Linked DNA regions of Homo sapiens: all the other regions are reported to be linked to region 3. Evidence: microRNA targets listed by miRTarBase, many of them from high-throughput screens and not tested one by one. Region 3 holds a microRNA gene; each other region holds the end of a gene's coding sequence.

Region 1 (3,565 bases), not on the chromosome of region 3:
GCCACTGCACTCCAGCCTGGCGACAGAGCAAGACTCTGTCCTGCCCCCCCAAAAAAAAAATTACAGATGTGCTTGTGAAATATAAAAGTACATAAAGTGCCATTTAACTTCTTCGAGATGCATATGCAACCTGTTCACCACTTCTCTCTGTGTGTGTGTGTGTGTGTGTGTGTGTGTGTGTGTGTGTGTGTGGTTATATAACTTAGCTTTTTCCTTTTTTTCTTTTCTTTTTTTTTTTTTTTTTTTAGACAAAGTCTTGCTCTGTCACCCAGGCTGGAGTGCTTGGCTCGACCTCCTGGGCTCAAGTGATCCTCCCACCTCAGCCCCCCAAGTAGCTGGGACTATTGGCACACACCACCATGCTTGGTTGATTTTTTTTGTTTGTTTTTAAGAGATGGGGTTCCTCTGTGCTTCCCAGGCTGGGGGTTTTCCTTTTCTTTAAAGAAAAATGCTATCCTACAACTTGGTTTTTACTGACCCATTTTGATCAGTCGCATTGGCTCAGTCCAGGATGTGACTTGGCTCCACCCTTCCGTCTGTAAGATGGAGAGGACTCACGAGGACCCAGGCTGTGAGGTCTGTGTGCCAGGAGGCCGGGCTGAGACCATGAGCACAGTGGGCAGGGCTGCCCAAGGCTGTAAGTTTCATTTGTAACCCTGGAGGATTTTCTTTCCTTCTGCAGATGGTGGAAGAGAGTGAAGAGCGGCTCACGGAGGAGCAGATTGAAGCTCTTCTCCACACCGTCACCAGCATTCTGCCTGCAGAGCCAGAGGCTGAGCAGAAGAAGAATACAAACAGCAATGTGGCAATGGACGAAGAGGACCCAGCATAGAAGAGCACAGCTGGCCCCGGCGTTTCATGAAGTCAGAAGGCCTGGCAGCCATTTCCTGGACGTTGAGAGGATTGTTTATTTGATTTTTATCCTCATCCCAGCAGGCCTGGCTTTGTGGTTAGTTGGGTACATCACAAAAATAAGTTAAAAAGAAATATTTGTGCCTTGGGGAGAAGAAACATGGTGAAAACAGGCTGAGGTTGTCAGGGCAGAGAGCTGAAGGTGGGGACAGTGACCGCGGACCCCTCTGTGCTTGAAAGATTTCCTCCACGGCCTTTGCCCCAGTTGTGGGGAGGTCTCTGTGCACAGCGGGGAAAATGCTTGTGTCGCCTTTGGTGGGCCATGTCCTAATTAGTTTCATCTGCTTCCCTGGGAACTTACTAAGGGGCCCAGAGCACTGTTGGAAGTCTGGTTAGAGTCCCCAGAGAGTTACTCTAAGTTAAAATGAGCCACTGACCTTGGCTCACCTTAGAGGAATTTCCTCGAGAACAACAGAGATAAGAAAAGAACCGGCCTGGCCAATCCTTCAACAGCTCTAGAGCCCCTTTTCTCTGCTGGCAGGGGCTTTGTTTACCAGCTCACTGTTTAGGCTAAATGTTAGGGACCAGATCACTGCAGTTGAAAACGGGCACTCCAGGCTTAGTGACAGTGGCAGCAGAAACAGTGTTGGCTGCCTTTCTGACCACCCCACTTTCCTGCCCTGAGACAGCAGCCCAGGGCAGGTGCTTCATATTCAGACCAGGTAAGCCTCATTTGCACAACAGTCAAATTGTTTGTTCCTTTAAAAAGGACACAATTAGCCTGGCACGGTGACTCATGCTTGTAATCCCAGCACTTTGGGAGGGCAAGGCAGGCGGATCACCTGAGGTCAGGAGTTTGAGACCAGCCTCACCAACATGGAAAAACCCCATCTCTACTAAAAAAATACAAAATTAACCAGGGGTGATGGCACATTCCTGTAATCCCAGCTACTCGGGAGGCCGAGGCAGGAGAATCGCTTGAACCCGGGAGGCAGAGGTTGAGGTGAGCCAAGATTGCACCATTGCACTCCAGCCTGGGCAACAAGAGCAAAACTTCATCTAAAAAACAGAAAATATTAAGATGATTACCATGTGAAAACCTTTTTAATATTCAGGATTTGGAAAGTATAGTTGCCCCAGGCATGTGGTTGTTGCCTTAGGTCCTGCGAATATTGCTGAAAATCGGATTTTCCACATTCACTTTCTTCCCTGTTTTAGGGAAGAAAATGATCATAGACATTCGATTTTCCAAATTGGCGCTCTTATTTTCAATGCTAATTGGATTACTTCTCTTCCAACCCTCCTGCCCGTCCATCCATCCCAGTCCCCAGGCATCTTAACCTTACCATCTGAGCTTCAGCTGAAATCTGTTTATAGGCAACATTGAAAGTACCAGATTGGGGCCAGGTGTAGCGGCCCACACCTGTAATCCCAGCACTTTGGGAGGCGGAGGCTAGCGGATCATGAGGTCAGGAGTTCAAGACCAGCCTGGCCAACATGGTGAAACCCCCATCTCTACTAAAGATATAAAAAACTAGCCGAGCGTGGTGTTGCATGCCTGTGATCCCAGCTACTCGGGAGGCTGAGGCGGGGGAATCGCTTGAACCGGGGAGGCAGAGGTTGCAGTGAGCCAGATCGTGCATTGCACTCCAGCCTGGCCGACAGGGTGAGACTCCATCTCAAAAAAGAGAAAGTACCAGATTGTACTTTTAAATCTGTCTAGCGTATTGAGAATTTTAGTGGGAGCTGTTGATTTATTTCTCAGGGCATACATGTGCCAATCTGTCTCATTGTTGTCTCTCTCTTTTTTTTTTTTTTTTTTGAGACAGTCTCGCTGTGTTGCCCAGGAGTGCAGTGGCACGATCTCTGCTCACTGCAACCTCTGCCTCCCAGATTCAAGCGATTCTGGTGCCTTAGCCTCCTGAGTAGCTGGGACTTACAGGCACGTACCACTATACCCTGCTAAAATTTGTATTTTTAGTAGAGACAGGGTTTTGCCATATTGGCCAGGCTAGTCGTAATGTCTCTTTTTAACACTGAATATGTTAGGTGGTTTTTCTTGATGGATTTAGGGTTAACCTAGTTAATAATAAATTGTTTCCAGGTAATTATCAAGTTTTGTCATTTTATAAATCTGAAGAGTTAATATTGTCATCGATACAAATAAAGTGAAATCTGACTGAGGCTAAAATGTGTGATTTTTTTCTTAAAAGACTGACTCTATTTAGATCTACTTTTTTTTTTTTTTTTTTTTTTTGAGACGGAGTCTCGCTCTGTCACCCAGGCTGGAGTGCAGTGGCGCCATCTAGGCTCACTGCAAGCTCCGCCTCCTGGGTTCATGCCATTCGCCTTCCTCTGCCTCCCGAGTAGCTGGGCTAATTTTTTGTATTTTTTAGTAGAGACAGGGTTTCACCGTGTTAGCCAGGATGGTCTCAATCTCCTGACCTTGCCCACCTCAGCCTCCCAAAGTGCTGGGATTACAGGCGTGAGCCACCTCGCCCAGCCTAGATCTACATTTTTAATTGGATTTCAAGAAAAGTTTAAGTTTCTATATTTGAGACCTGAATTTAACCTCAGTTTTTTGTTAAACCAGGTTCTGGAAGACTTAACTTTATAAGAAATGAACATATATTCTGTGTAATTTTCCCATCACATTAATAATAAATGTTTCAGAAATAAAAATTGGCCAGGCTCAGTGGCTCACGCCTGTAAT
Region 2 (3,526 bases), not on the chromosome of region 3:
TTTTTCAGTCATACATCATTTTTCTACAAAACAAAGAAGAATCAGAGCAATAAAAGAAATGGCCAGGGTCTTAGTTCCCGGAGGCCAACTGATGATTTACGTTTGGGCAATGGAACAAAAGAACCGTCACTTTGAGAAGCAAGACGTGCTTGTTCCATGGAACAGGGCTCTGTGTTCCCAGCTCTTCTCAGAGTCCAGCCAGTCTGGGAGGAAGAGGCAGTGTGGATACCCAGAAAGAGGCCATCCCTACCATCCTCCTTGCTCTGAGTGTAGCTGTTCTGTTTGTTTTAAAGAGCAGTGTGGTTCAAAACGGTCCCACAGCGTGGGCTATGAACCTGCTATGGCAAGAACCTGTTTTGCAAATATTTCTAAGGAAGGCGAGGAAGAATATGGATTTTACAGCACATTAGGAAAATCGTTTCGTTCCTGGTTTTTCTCCAGATCTTTGGATGAATCGACTCTGAGGAAGCAAATTGAAAGAGTAAGACCCTTGAAAAACACAGAAGTTTGGGCCAGTAGCACTGTAACAGTCCAGCCTTCCAGACACTCTAGTTTAGACTTTGATCACCAAGAGCCATTTTCAACAAAAGGGCAAAGTTTAGATGAGGAAGTGTTTGTGGAATCTTCTTCTGGAAAACACTTGGAGTGGCTGAGAGCACCAGGCACTCTGAAACATTTAAATGGAGACCATCAAGGGGAAATGAGGAGAAATGGAGGGGGAAATTTTCTGGATAGCACTAATACTGGTGTGAATTGTGTGGATGCAGGCAACATAGAAGATGATAATCCTTCTGCTAGTAAAATATTGAGAAGGATTTCTGCAGTTGATTCCACAGATTTCAACCCAGATGATACAATGTCTGTCGAAGATCCACAGACTGATGTTTTGGACTCCACAGCCTTTATGCGCTACTACCATGTGTTTCGAGAAGGGGAGCTCTGCAGTCTGCTCAAGGAGAATGTGTCAGAGCTCCGTATCCTGAGTTCTGGGAATGATCATGGTAACTGGTGTATCATTGCAGAGAAAAAGAGAGGTTGTGATTGATTGGATCCTTTTAGACAACTCCTCCAAAAGATGAACCACATTCTTTCCTCTTGGTTTGATATGGTTACCTGAATTTGCATTCAGTGTTATTTGTTAATCCATTTACGCTTTGGTCTGCAGAGACTATTAATTATTTGGTTGTTTTGTTTTCATTTTTGAATAAGCACAGATTCTGGCATTGAAAGCACTTGACAAAGGGTATTTGTGCTTAAATGTTAATATACAAGATCTGAAGAAGCAACAGAAAGTACCCTTCAGTACACCTCAGACTTTTTTTTAACCCCAGAGAGATAAAATACATGTATAGTGTTTTTCAGTATTACACATTGATTTAAAAAGATTATGCTGTTAAATAATCTTTTAAAACGGTATTTTTATAAAGTGAGGGGATAATTTCTGGTTCTCAGGTTATAACTGAGAGCAGTGTGCAAGATAATAGGTAAATTTGATCCATTGCACAGATATACTTTGAACCATGTGATGAGTTATCTTGTTGCCAAGGCCTTGCTTCTACTTAAAGTTTTCAGAAAACTGAGTGACAGTGGAGAGAAACAAGAAGTTTTACAAGGACTTTACTAAATTATAAGCAAACTTGCTTCAAAATAAGTTGACATGTGATAATAAGGTTTTCAATGTAGCCCAGGAGGTTTTTAAAGGCACTGTTAGGCTGAGCATGGTGGCTCATGCCTGTAATCCCAGCACTTTGGGAGGCCAAGGCAGAAGGATCACTTGAACCCAGGAGTTCAAGAATAGCCTGGGCAACATAGCAAGACCCCATCTCTATAAAAATTAGCAAGATGTGGTGGTGCATGCCTGTCATCCAAGCTACTCAAGAGACTGAGGCAGGAGGATCACGTGAGCCCAGGAATTCAAGGCTGCAGTGAACTATGATTGCATCACTGCACTGCAGCCTGGGCAACATAGCAAGACTCTGTCTCAAAATAATAATAATAATAATAATAAAGGCGTTGTTAGCTTGTAAGGAGTGGAGTATGTAGGTAGTAGGAGTTATATGCAAGTACCCAAGTGGTATTCTTCCAATCTTATTAGAAGCATGAATATTCAAGATTGATATTACTATTGCTTATTAGCAAGATTGTTATCAATCATGCTTATTAGAAGGATGAATATCCAAGACCAAGATTGACTAATGATGAGTCTGCATCAAGAACTAGGCATTTCTTCTGAGTTGACGGACTCTTTAGGAAAGGAGAATCTAAGTGAAGCACTGATTTTAGCTCTGAGAACAAACAAATTAAGGTACAGCATAGTTAGCCTTGGTAGAGGTATGACTTGGATTTGCTGTATCCTTTAAAATAGTATCTGGGCATTTATTTTATTGAAGGTGACTACATTTTATTAGTTATATTAGGAATTTAGGTAGAATCAACTTCTACTGATTACAGGTTGAATTTCTGTCACTTTGTAGAGAAACGAATAGACTGGACACTGTGTGGTCACTGTTTAGATTTGCCCATGGGTCTCTTTAAATCTATGTCATGGATCCTGAGACACAAATATAATTAAGACAGGTCTAGAGACAGGAGAAGCAGAAATAAGTTGACCCAGGAGTACAGTCTCAAGTAGTTCATTAATGAGAAAATTGACATCTGACAAGAGTCTTTTTACTTTATGCTGGATGAAAATCCAAATCTTGTTTTATTTTTTCCACTAAAAGTGACTAAAATAATAACGAATTTCATTTGTTCTTGGGTTCTTTTTTCCTTTAATGATTGTGCTATAACTTAAAATAATGATGTTACTTTTGAACAAACTTAAAGAAATATTTTTAAAGCGTATCTGAAAACGATTGATGTTTATAACTCTCTTTTGGCTTCAAAATAAGATTGTGTTATCACCATTTTGGTAGATGAGGTTGTCTGGTGAAAATGATGCATATGAGTTGTACTGTTCAGTGTACATCCTGCAGTAGTGGATGATTGAAAACATATATAAGTGGAGTATAAATTAAAAATTAATTTGGTTTCTTCTATTTCTTTTTTTTTTTTTTTTTTTTGAGACAGAGTCTCGCTCTGTCGCCCAGGCTGGAGTGCACTGGCGCGATCTCGGCTCACTGTAAGCTCCGCCTCCCGGGTTCACGCCATCCTCCTGCCTCAGCCTCCCAAGTAGCTGGGACTACTGGCACCCACCACGACGCCCGGCTGTTTTTTTGTATTTTTAGGAGAGACGGGGTTTCACCGTGTTAGCCAGGATGGTCTCGATCTCCTGACGTCGTGATCCACCCGCCTCGGCCCCCCACAGTGCTGGGATTACAGGCGTGAGCCACCGCGCCCGGCCTGTTCCTTTTATTTCTTAATTCAGGACACTAAACCATGACTGCAAGGGATTTCCTTGGTAAAAAGAAAAGATTCTCAGAGTCAAAATGGTCTTACAACTCGGGCTTGACGGCCTTTGAATTATGAATGGATTGTTCCTCTCTCTGAAGCCTATTGTCACATGGGTTTTTAATCCTGGCCTTGC
Region 3 (3,565 bases):
GGCAGGCAGGCACCTCTGCTCCGTGTTAAAGAGGGCAAAGATATGCTTGCTCGACATAAAGCCCTTCTCCACGTCCCGCAGCTTGAGGTTGTCCACAGACAGCATGTATTTCTTCTCTTTCTCCTGTGGGTGCAGGTAGGAGCAATGGGGTGAGGTTGGCACTGTTCTCTGCCACACCTCACTCTCTAAGAGTCCCCCTGACTGGCCCAGGGCTTCTAAGCATCAGCCCCCTCCCACTGCGAAGGTGCAGCTAGATAAAAGCCTGGCCACGGACCGTAGGCCTCCTGGGCACCGCCGACCCCCGCAGAGCCAGTCCTACCAGCTCTGCATATATGCCGGGGGCCAGGGGGCTGGTGAGGGGTGGGGAGGCTGAGAGTGGCTCCCAAAATCCCTCCCCAGGCAAGTCCTGGATACAAGCCAGGCCAGCCTCAGGCAGGGACCGCACACTCAGGCCTCTCTCACCCCCGGCCTGGCCGCCTCTGACTTCATTTCCTGACTGCAGAGACCAGGAAGGGGGGCCACCAGACCCGGCGGCTTCAAAGGGCCGGCTCAGCCCACTCCCCCGAGCTCCCCATGTGTTAGCAATAAGGCAGCCAGCACAAGCCTGGAGATGGTGTGCCTGTGTGTGCAACATGTGTGTAGTTGTGTGTTTGTGCCAACACATGCAAGCCCAAGTACATATCCTATCAGCTATTGTGTGTGTGTGCACATGTGTATCTGGGGAGGTGCCCAGCATGAACCATGTGTCGGTGTCAGCGTGTCTGCATCTCAGTGTGGATGTGTGCACACTTTGTGGATGTGTGTGGCAATTGTGCGAGCCTACATGTTTGCAGAGCCATGCCTGTGGACTTATACTGGGGTACACATCTTACCTGCACACCGTGGTACAATGGGCTGTGTGTTTGATTTATCTAGAGCTGTCTGGGAGGAGTTATGTGTATCTGTGCACAGGCGTGTGGGGTGCTAGGCCCATGTGTGTGCTCGGTGTGGGCACATGTGTATGTAGGCTGCTGTGTCCCAGGGGAGGGGTTCAGGGATCTAGGGAGGAGGTACCCCAGGATGGGGCTCTGGGAGAGGGGAGGGGTTTTTGTCACCCATGCCCTACTTGTTCACGGGGGTCGTCTGTGTGGGCCTCGGGGACTCAAAGAGGTTGGGCATGAGCCTTGCCTAGGATCTCAGGTGGGGGGCTGGGTTTAGGGGGACCTTGCTCCCCCGTCCTGGCGTCATCCCGCCCACCCCTCTCTGCCCCCAACGCCCCCCTGGCCCATGCAGCCACATAAAGCCCTCTTTATGCCAGGCGGGTGGCCGGGAGCCCCAGAGGGCGGCTGGGGGAGGAGAGGAGGAAGTTGCACACACGGCCAGGGAACATCTGGAACCGTTCGAGAGAGGCCCCGCCACCACCCGCCCTGTGCTTCGGGGTTGGACACTAGGTAGGAGCGGCCTCCTCCCCCCACCCCTCCCTTCCTGCCGGCCGGCCCCCTCCTCAGGCCCCTCCTTCTCAGCCCCAGCTCCCGCTCACCCCTGCCACGTCAAAGGAGGCAGAAGGGGAGTTGGGAGCAGAGAGGGGACCACGGGCTGGCTGGTCTGGGGCTAGGGGGACACAGGCTGGGGTTGGGGGGTTCTCGGATCTCCAGGGGATGGGGCTGAAGCGCCCACCGGATGGACAGACACTGCTGCCTGGATGGACCAGAGGACACCTCCACTCCGTCTACCCAGTGTTTAGACTATCTGTTCAGGACTCCCAAATTGTACAGTAGTCTGCACATTGGTTAGGCTGGGCTGGGTTAGACCCTCGGCACCGCCGCCACTGGAGAGCTGGACCGACCCCTGCCTGCCATCCCAGAACCGGAGCCTGGAGCCAGGGGGTTGGGGCACAGGGCGGGCTGGGAGGAGGCACAGATGGATGGGGGTGCCACCCTGTGTGGGACTGGTTGGGGGTAGCGGTGATGGGGGAAGGGTGGCCGAGGAAGACTGAGAGGATGGGGGGGTCAATGGGGACTGGGGATGTGGGCAGCCGCCGGTCTGCCCAAAGAGCCTCCCTCACCCCAAAACCTGAGGGCTGGTGGTTGAGTAGAGAAGTACAGACCACTCTCCCACCAGCCTGGACCACCTCCACATCCCCAGTGGTCCTAGTGCAAGAATCCACTCACATTCAACACACACGCACCTTGACACTCACAGCCCCAGAACTCACACACATGAGCACCCCCACACTTTCAATCTCACACCCATGTCCCACACGGACACACACAAGTGCATGCACACACACCCATACACACCCTCACAACTGGAACACTCCCCCCATCCTCACATCCCAAAGACATACACAGATTCTCAAACACCCCATACTCACACCCTCCCTCCTAGAGCCCCCTCCCCACACACACCTGCTTTTACACCCCAAGCACAGGCAGGTGCCCAGAGTCACTCCCCAGGCACACAGATTTCACCCCCAGATGCAAATGCAGACCACATATTCCAAACACACCTAGATGCTTATACTCCAATCACACTCCTAAAAAACACCCACACACCAGACCCACAAGCCACACACACACACACACACACACACACAAACACACCCCGCCTCCCAGCACCCACAGCCCACAGCTGACTCCCATCTCCCCACATATGATTCTCAGAGCTGTTTTCGCACACGACTTAACTCAGATGTACACAAAAGCTCCAGAAAGGCCTGCAGGCTCAGGCATGAGATCAGGGGACCCCCTCAGTGGCACGTGCCCCTCCCCCACAGTGTCACCCGGTCTCCGGCCCTCAGCCCCAGGTCACATGGTCTCCCTGGCCCTGAGTAAGGAACCTCAACATGGGAGACCCCAAACCCATGGGGGCATCTAGGGAGCCTGCAGAGAGACCGGCAGGAAGCCACCCCCCACCCGCACCCCATGCCACTGCACACTCCATCCCTTCCAGGGGCCCCCATGGTGGGGGAGGCCAGGGTTGGGGTAATGAGGTCCAGATGGCTTGGCGCCCCCGCCAGTGACGACAGAGGGCCCCTCCCAAGGTGGAGAGTTGGGGCCCCTGCCCAGGACAAACTTGGAGGAGACAGGGACCTGGGAGGGGGCTTGGAGGCCAAAATCACAGGCCCCACCCAGAGCCCCGCTCCCCCGTTGAGGATGCTGTAGCCTCCAACAGCCCCCTCAGGAAGAAGAGGGTCCCTTCCCCCACTCCTTGGCCAGCTGGAGTTCATTACCACAAGCCCACCCCCAGCCCTCCCCATTCTCTCTGGTCACCTCTGGAATCCAGATGTGAAAGCCAAATAGACTCATTCTTAAAGGAGACCAGCAACAGGGGAAGGAGGTGGCAGGGGCTTCTGTGCACCCTAGTGGGCGGGGAGGGGTTTTTTGTGGCACCTCGGCAGGGCCCCCACACTCCTTGCCCCTCAGCCTGAGGGCACCCTGGTCATTTCCCTTGGACTGCAGGGGTCTAGGGGACTGGGGTGCAGGGGTTAACCGGGTGTCTGGCAGCTAGACTTGTGTGTGTCATGGGCCTGTGGGGGCCACAGAGGAGGCGGCACGCCCTGCAGCGGGAAAACAGGAAGGCTGCT
Region 4 (3,565 bases), not on the chromosome of region 3:
GTTCTAAAGTCAACAATTTGGTGCCTTATCAAGGTAGTTGTACCTGGGGTGGCTCAGACCTGGGGTGACATAGGGGTGGTGATGGTAGGTATTGATTTTAGTGAGGCCACCACTTTCTGAGTCTAGAACTCTTCCTTGGGAAGAGCCTTCAGAAACCTCAGTCTTCCATCACACGGTGCATTTGTTGAGCAGACGTCTTCTGAGTTGGCTATTGCCAGACTGGATGCTAAACAAATTTTGACTATTTGCAAACAAGCTAAAAAATAAGGACAAAGATATGCATGCCTTGTAGAGAATCTTTAAAATAATGTGAAATCCTGAAAACGTCTGGCACATGGTAGGCCTCACCAAATATGCTGTAAGATCTAAAAGCTGTTCTTACACGAGAATTCCAGAATGTTTCAAGAAAGGAAAACATTGGTCTAACCAACACAAACATTGTTTTTATGTGTTTGATTTTAAAAGTCTGTGAAATGACTTTTTTTTTAGCTGGAATCACAAGCTCTGTGCCTAAGAGGCTGGGTAGGGAACCTTGGAGAAGCCCAGTTGGGCTTTAAGACGAGGGGGAGTGCTGAGGACTCCGATCCCTTAGTCCAAAGAGGACAACTTCCACTCAGCTCCAGCCACCAGTTGCCAAACCTTTTGCTTTTTTCACAACAGAAGATGGAAGTCCAGATTTTTATGTGACATTTCAAGATATTTAAAATAACCTGGAGTCACCAACTCATTCTTGGCCACGAAACTTATAAACACGCCTGCATTCATGCATCCTCTGACAGGCCTCCCAGCCAACGCCCCTCCCTCACCTGTGTCCAGGTCTCATTGTCTCCTACCTTCTCTGGGATTTTGCTTTTGTAGTTCACCATTGTGATCTGAATTCTGACCCAGCTGCTCCTGATGCTGCTGTCACCGAGACTGGATTTGCTTGCAGCGACATCCAAAGGGTTTGGAAGCCCTTCGCCTAGGTGACCTCTCTCTAGCCTCCAGCGGCCTCCTCCTCCCTGAAGCGCGTCTTTCCTCGGCTCCTCTATCACCTCTACCTGGGGCTTTCCTGTCCAGTCCTTGCACCTGCACTCTCCAATCTTGTTTACAGGCCTCTCTCGGTGCCATCCCCTAATGTTGGTGTCCCAGAGGCTTCTGTCCCAGGCCCCCAATTTCTCACTCCACACTCAGTTCTTTGGGAAGATCATCCGCTCCCCCATAGCTTCAGAAGCACATGCGGATAGTTCTCAGCTGTATGTCTGCAGCCTGGCCCTCTCCTGAGCTCTCCACCCACACAGCCTCCTTCCTGCTGGGCACACACTGCTCACAACTCAGGAGACCCAGGACTACTCCCCCAGCACAAAGCTGCCCCCAACACCGAGTCTCCCTTCTGGGAGTATGCCACTGTCATCCAGTCAGTGTCAAACAGAAATCGGGCTGAGCTCATTGATTCCCCGACCCACACTAGTCAACAGGTCCTGTATCCTCTGCCTATTAAGTGTCTCTTGAATCCATCACTTCTCTGTCTCCTCTGACACAACTATGGTCCCAGGTCACCACAACCTGTCACCAGGACAACTGATGCGCAGGCCTCCAATTTCGCTCCCGAGTTGTCTAGCCAAACATCTTTCCAAACTTCAGGAATGTGAGCGTGGCCCTGTTCCTGCCCCGCCTAACCTTGCCATGGTTCCCCCTCCCTTGGACACGGTCTAAACTGCTTCACAGGTGTGAAAGACCCCTTCATCTCTCAGGCCACTGCTCTGGCCTCTCATCCCCGCTCACTGGGAAATGAATAATGCTGCGCTCCAAGTCCCACGAGAGGCAGAGGGGGGTCAAACCCAAGACTACTCACTGCAAGCTCCATAGGCTCCCCATCGTCCTACCCTCCCCGTTCACGGCCAGGCAGCCCTAGCTCTCATACCTGCGTGGGCTGGAGAAGGGCAATACAGAGACTTCTGGACCCAGCAGCCTTAAGAAAGGACTTGTTGCAAGTGCGATGTGAAAGCAACCTTCATCTGCAGTGGATGTGCCACCTCCTTCCTCACGCCACCGAGCTCCGAATCCCCCAGGAGAGTTGCGGAGACCACACAGAGCTCCCAAGCCCACGCCAAAGGACGGCCTGCCCCCCTTCAGCTCTAGTCGGTGACACGTGGCGTGAGAGAAATGCACCCCAATCTTCCTTCCTTATACTTCCGAGCTAGAAGCAGGAGCCAGGATGGTGGCTTAGTGAATAAATATATTACATTTTTATTTGGGAGAACCAATTAACAGCAGCTGGCTAAATGTAACTCACCCAGGACAGAAGGGGAAGTGGAGGGGGGTGGTCTGTGTGTGGATGGAGGTGGGACAGTGGCTAAGGAGAGTCAGGTGTTCCCTCCCCCAATTCATTTAGCAGCCCCAGAACTTTCCGATTTTAACTTTAATGAAACTTTAAGTACATAAATAACCACTCTTTCCTGCCCTGGTTGAGGCCGCGCTGGGTCCGGGAAATATCTGCTTTCCAACGGGGCACCTGGGTGGGAGCCTTCCAAGAACTTCAGCTCAGCGGTTCCCAGCAAGGGTTCGCTGAGTCTCTGTCCTAGGAGGTCCGAGCTGGGTATGCTGTGCGGACGCAGACACTGCGGGAAGGAAACAGGTGTCCCGCGGCGGCCAAACCTTCGGGCAGCAGCCCAGGTCGCCTTGCTCACCCCAGGCGGTCTCATGGCACGGGCCTCTCGAAACTGTGGGCAAGAAAGGGTCCTCGTGAGAACTAGGCTCAGAAGAAGAGCGGGGGCGGCGCCACCTCGGGGGGAGCGGACCAGGCTGGGGCCGCAAGGGCGGCGTCCGGGGCCGCGTGGGCGGCTTCGCCGTGAATGAGCTGGTGCCGCACCAGGTGGGTCTTGCGGCTGAAGCTCTTTCCGCACTGCGGGCAGGAGAAGGGGCGGGAGCCTGTGTGGATCGCCTGGTGGCGGACTAGGTTGGTTTTGGAGCTGAAGCTGCGGGCGCAGACGGCGCAGGCGTGGGGGCGGCTGCCAGTGTGCACCGCCTGGTGGCGGCCCAGGTGCGACTTGCGGCTGAAGCGGCGGCCGCACTGAGCGCAGGCGAAAGGCCTGGCGCCGCTGTGGGCCCTGGAGTGGGCGACCAGATTAGGCCGCGAGCCGAAGCGGCGGTCACACTGCGTGCAGGCGAAGGGCCGTTCGCCCGTGTGCACGCGCGGGTGCCGCGCCAGGTGCTGCCCATGGGAGAAGCCGCGCCCGCAGTCCGGGCAGAAGAAGGACCGCTCGCCCGAGGGGGCGCGCTGGGGCACCACGGGATCGGATCCTGGGCCGCAGCCCGGTCCGCCAGGCGCGCTGGCCAGGGGCTTGGCGGCGGGGGCATCCACGGTGGCGCCCAGTGCGCACTCATCGCACCCAAAGGGGCGACCCTCGCTGCGGTGCAGACACTGGTGCGTGGCGAGGTTCTTTTTCCAGCCGAAGCTCAAGCCGCAGTCGGAGCACGCGAAAGGCTTTGGCCCGGGAAAGGATGGGGTCGGGGACGGGGCAGTGGAATGAGGAGAAGCGGACGAGTCGGGAGAGGGCCTGGCCGGGCCGGCCGTCTGGTGCAC
Region 5 (3,565 bases), not on the chromosome of region 3:
CATTTGCTTAAATGATCATTTGCCGGGTGCGGTGGTTCATGCCTGTAATCCTAGCACTTTGGGAGGCTGAGGCGGGCAGATCACCTGAGGTCAGGAGTTCGAGACTAGCTAGACCATCATGGCAAAATCCCGTCTCTACTAAAAATACAAAATCAGACACACGTGGTAGCGCACGCCTGTAATCCCAGCTACTCTGGAGGCTGAGGCAGGAGAATGGCTTGAACCTGGGAGGCAGAGGTTGCAGAGACGAGATCGCACCATTGCACTCCAGCCTGGGCAACAAGAGCAAAGCCCCATCTCAAAAAAAAAAAAAAAAAAAAAATCCTAACTTGAAAGTCTGAGACCTATGTTTAATACAAAATACTTCAAAAGAGAAGTTATAGTAGTTAGCTACTTGGTAAAGTCTGAGTATAATTCAAGGTGTAAACAGAACAGTGATTTTGTAAAAAGTCTGGTCTCAGCCAGGCGTGGTGGCTTACACCTGTAATCCCAGCACTTTGGGAGGCCAAGGGGACGGTGGGGGTGGGGTGGATCACAAGGTCAGGAGTTCAAGACCAGCCTGGCTAAGATGGTGAAACCCCGTCTCTACTAAAAATACAAAAATTAGCCGTGCGTGGTGGCAGGTGCCTGTAATCCCAGCTACTTGGGAGGCTGAGGCAGAGAATTGCTTGAACCTGGAAGGCAGAGGTTGCAGTGAGCCGAGATTGCACCACTACACTCCAGCCTGGGTGACAGAGTGAGACTCCATCTCAAAAAAAACAAAAAACAAAAAAACCCTGGTCTCTATGCCCTACTTAACACTAGATATCACACTATGAGATCACAGAATTTACCTTGCAAAGTCTCTTTAAGCCACTGCTCTTCAAATTGTGGTTGTGTGGTTTGTTCTGAACATCAGCATCAGTATTACCTGGGAACTTGTTAGAAATGCAGATTCTTGGGTTTCACCCCAGATGTACTGAATCAGCAGCTTCTGGTGGTAGGACCCAGTGATCTGTTTTAAAATATCCTCCAGATGATTTTTGTCACAAAGTTTGAGAATCATTGGTATTTGCTGATACAGTAGTTGCTTAATAAAACCTATTGGGGCCACATGCTGTGGCTCACACTTATAATCCCAGCACTTTAGGAGGCTGAGGTGGGCGGATTGCCTGAGCTTAGGAGTCTGAGACCACCCTGGGCAACATGGCAAAACACCGCTTCTAATAAAAATACAAAAAACTAGCCCGGTGTGGTGGTGCATGCCTGTAGCCCCTGCTACTCGGGAGGCTGAGGCATGAGAATCACTTGAGCCTCAGAAACGGAGGTTGCAGTGAGCCAAGATCATGCCACTACACTCTGGCTTGGGCTACAGAGTAAGACTCTGTCTCAAAAAAAAAAAAGAAAAAAAGGCTGGGCCCAGTGGCTCATGCCTGTAATACCAGCACTTTTGAAGGCTGAGGCGGGCGGATCATGAGGTCAGGAGTTCGAGTTCAAGACCAGCCTGGCCAACATGGCAAAACCCCATCTCTACTAAAAATACAAAAATTAGCCAGGCGTGGTGGCACGCGCCTGTAATCCCAGCTACTTGGGAGGCTGAGGCAGGAGAATGGCTTGAACTAGGGAGGGGGAGGTTGTGGTGAGCTGAGATTGCCCCACTGCACTCCAGCCTGGGCAACAGAGCAAGACTTCGTGTCAAAAAAAAAAAAAAAAAAACCCAAAAAAACCTATTGGATAATTCTGTGTTCAGCAGCTCCATTTATGAAGACTGGGTTCTCTCTACCTACTGACAGGGCTAGGCCTTGGCACACTGCTCTGACTCTGGTTACTTGCAAACACAATAAGTAATCCACACAGCAAAAGACAGTCTAAGAAAGCCTAAAGTTTAGAATTCAGACCAAAGAACAATGTAGAAACTACCAAAATAGGCCAAGTGTAGCGGCTCATGCCTGTAATCTTAGCACTTTGGGAGTCTGAGGTGGGTGGATTGCTTGAGCTCAGGAATTCAAGACCAACCTGGGCAACATGGTGAAACTCCGTCTCTACAAATACAAAAAATTAGCCAGGCGTGGTGGCACTTGCCTGTGGTCCCAGCCACTCAGGAGGCTGAGGTGGGAGAATGGCTTGAGCCCAGGAGGTCGAGGCTGCAGTGAGCTATGATCACGCCACTGCACTCCAGCCTGGGCAACAGAGCAAGACCCTGTCTCAGAAATAGATAGATAGATAGATAGATAGATAGATAGATAGATAGATAGACAGACCGACCGACCGACAGACAGACAGACATGGGGTCTCACTATGTTGGCTAGGCTGGAATTGAATTCCTGGAATCAAGTGATCATCCTGCCTCAGCCTCCCAAGTAGTTGGGACTACAGGTGTGTACCACTGTGCCTGGCAGGCCCCACATTCTTGTTGTCTCCAGATGTGGACAAAGTTTTTACCTCCCACTTATGATTCTTCCCCATCTCTCTCACAGCAGTCCTGCTCCTCACCTGGGATAACCCACCCCCAGATACTAACCCTGAACTAACATGGCTGAAATCAGTCCAGATCAAATTTCCAGGAGATAAAAAACATTTATTTTAATGCACAACTATAGCATTCATATGCCTCAGCCCAGGGCAGGGGTTGGGAGTTAGGTAAGAAGGGATGCATTTAGTTTGCCCTGTCCCCAAAGAGCGGGTAAATAGCTAAGCCACTCTTCACTCCCAGTACAGACCTTCAGAAGCCCCAGATATCAGGATGTAATGGTAGGGCTCACTGCTCTAAAACAGCTCAAACAACCTGCTCCCAGGAAGGCAAGCCTTCTGCTCCTTGGTCTCCTGCCTACCATTAGGACACAATGTTCTTCGTCTGGCCAGACATCTGTTGAAAGGCTGGATACAGGACAACGTACCCATCTTTCCATCTATATCAACTATCCTAGGTCTCTGATACCCCATTTTGGAGCACTGTTGAAGTCAGTCTCTGGAGGTAGTGCTGACGCAGAGGGGGCAACTGAGAATAGAGCTCAAAGCCCTCTGGGAGCGTGGAATTGGGAAGCTTATAGTGCAGGAGGTGCTGCCGGAGACCCTGCAGAAAGGAAAGAAAACTTATGAAGTGGGTAATGAGATCCTGTTGTGGTCTCTGTCCCCCAAGATCCTCTAATATCCCACCCTCCTAATGGCCCTGACCCTACCTCATCTGCCAGCAGCCATGTTTTCTGCAGCATACTCCTGCGGGCAGCTTTGACCTCATCCTAGAAGCAGAACAGGGAGAGGTGGCACTGAGCCGAGGGCTGGTACCCACCACTGGCCTTGCTTGACACTTACCTCTTCCCCAGCTGGCCCAGAGGCAGCTCAATTGCTAGCTCCCTTCCTTCCTCTGAAGATGGAGATGTAACTTACTGAGCTCTGTGGGTCCTGAGAGAAGATGAAGCTATTGACATGAGCCACAGCCACAGCATAGAGCACGGGGCACCAACGTGGGCGGAGCGCACCAGTAACCAGGGTCCGGAAGTAGAGCTGAAGGAGGGCCAGGTTGTCTTCAGGAGGCACTGTGTAACACTCCAGGGACACAGGCAACTGTGACAGGGGAAATGACGTG

The links. The annotated mature microRNA hsa-miR-3154 reads CAGAAGGGGAGUUGGGAGCAGA and lies in region 3 at 1,540-1,561, shown strand. An mRNA with a match to its seed (bases 2 to 7 or 8) in the 3' UTR can be bound and repressed. Matches are read on the target gene's strand: a 7mer-m8 pairs with bases 2 to 8, a 7mer-A1 pairs with bases 2 to 7 and ends in A, and an 8mer does both.
Region 1: miRTarBase lists CRCP as a target of hsa-miR-3154. The part of its 3' UTR that is shown has no 7-base or 8-base seed match.
Region 2: the mRNA of TRMT9B is a reported target of hsa-miR-3154. The part of its 3' UTR that is shown has no 7-base or 8-base seed match.
Region 4: miRTarBase lists ZNF467 as a target of hsa-miR-3154. Seed matches in the 3' UTR shown: 7mer-m8 at 2,283-2,289.
Region 5: the mRNA of RPAP1 is a reported target of hsa-miR-3154. Seed matches in the 3' UTR shown: 7mer-m8 at 2,623-2,629.

Annotation. Positions count from the first base shown.
Region 1 is chr7:66,151,526-66,155,090 of GRCh38, forward strand. CRCP (CGRP receptor component) reads left to right here. Exons shown (of 6, transcript NM_014478.5): 6 at 683-3,043. The coding sequence ends at 832. Among named protein-coding and RNA genes, the nearest start is that of CRCP, 38 kb to the left of the region's middle.
Region 2 is chr8:13,021,000-13,024,525 of GRCh38, forward strand. It overlaps TRMT9B (tRNA methyltransferase 9B (putative)), which reads left to right. Exons shown (of 5, transcript NM_020844.3): 5 at 9-3,526. The coding sequence ends at 1,045. The region is part of intron 3 of LOC124901889 (a long non-coding RNA gene); the gene reads right to left. Among named protein-coding and RNA genes, the nearest start is that of TRMT9B, 77 kb to the left of the region's middle.
Region 3 is chr9:128,242,952-128,246,516 of GRCh38, reverse strand. MIR3154 (microRNA 3154) reads left to right here and starts at 1,487; the gene lies at 1,487-1,570. DNM1 (dynamin 1) reads right to left here. Exons shown (of 22, transcript NM_004408.4): 16 at 14-123. It overlaps MIR199B (microRNA 199b), which reads left to right and starts at 1,687; the gene lies at 1,687-1,796.
Region 4 is chr7:149,761,977-149,765,541 of GRCh38, forward strand. ZNF467 (zinc finger protein 467) reads right to left here. Exons shown (of 5, transcript NM_207336.3): 5 at 2,206-3,565. The coding sequence ends at 2,738. Among named protein-coding and RNA genes, the nearest start is that of ZNF467, 9.8 kb to the right of the region's middle.
Region 5 is chr15:41,514,640-41,518,204 of GRCh38, forward strand. RPAP1 (RNA polymerase II associated protein 1) reads right to left here. Exons shown (of 25, transcript NM_015540.4): 23 at 3,367-3,543; 24 at 3,159-3,218; 25 at 2,537-3,052. The coding sequence ends at 2,903. Among named protein-coding and RNA genes, the nearest start is that of LTK, 2.6 kb to the left of the region's middle.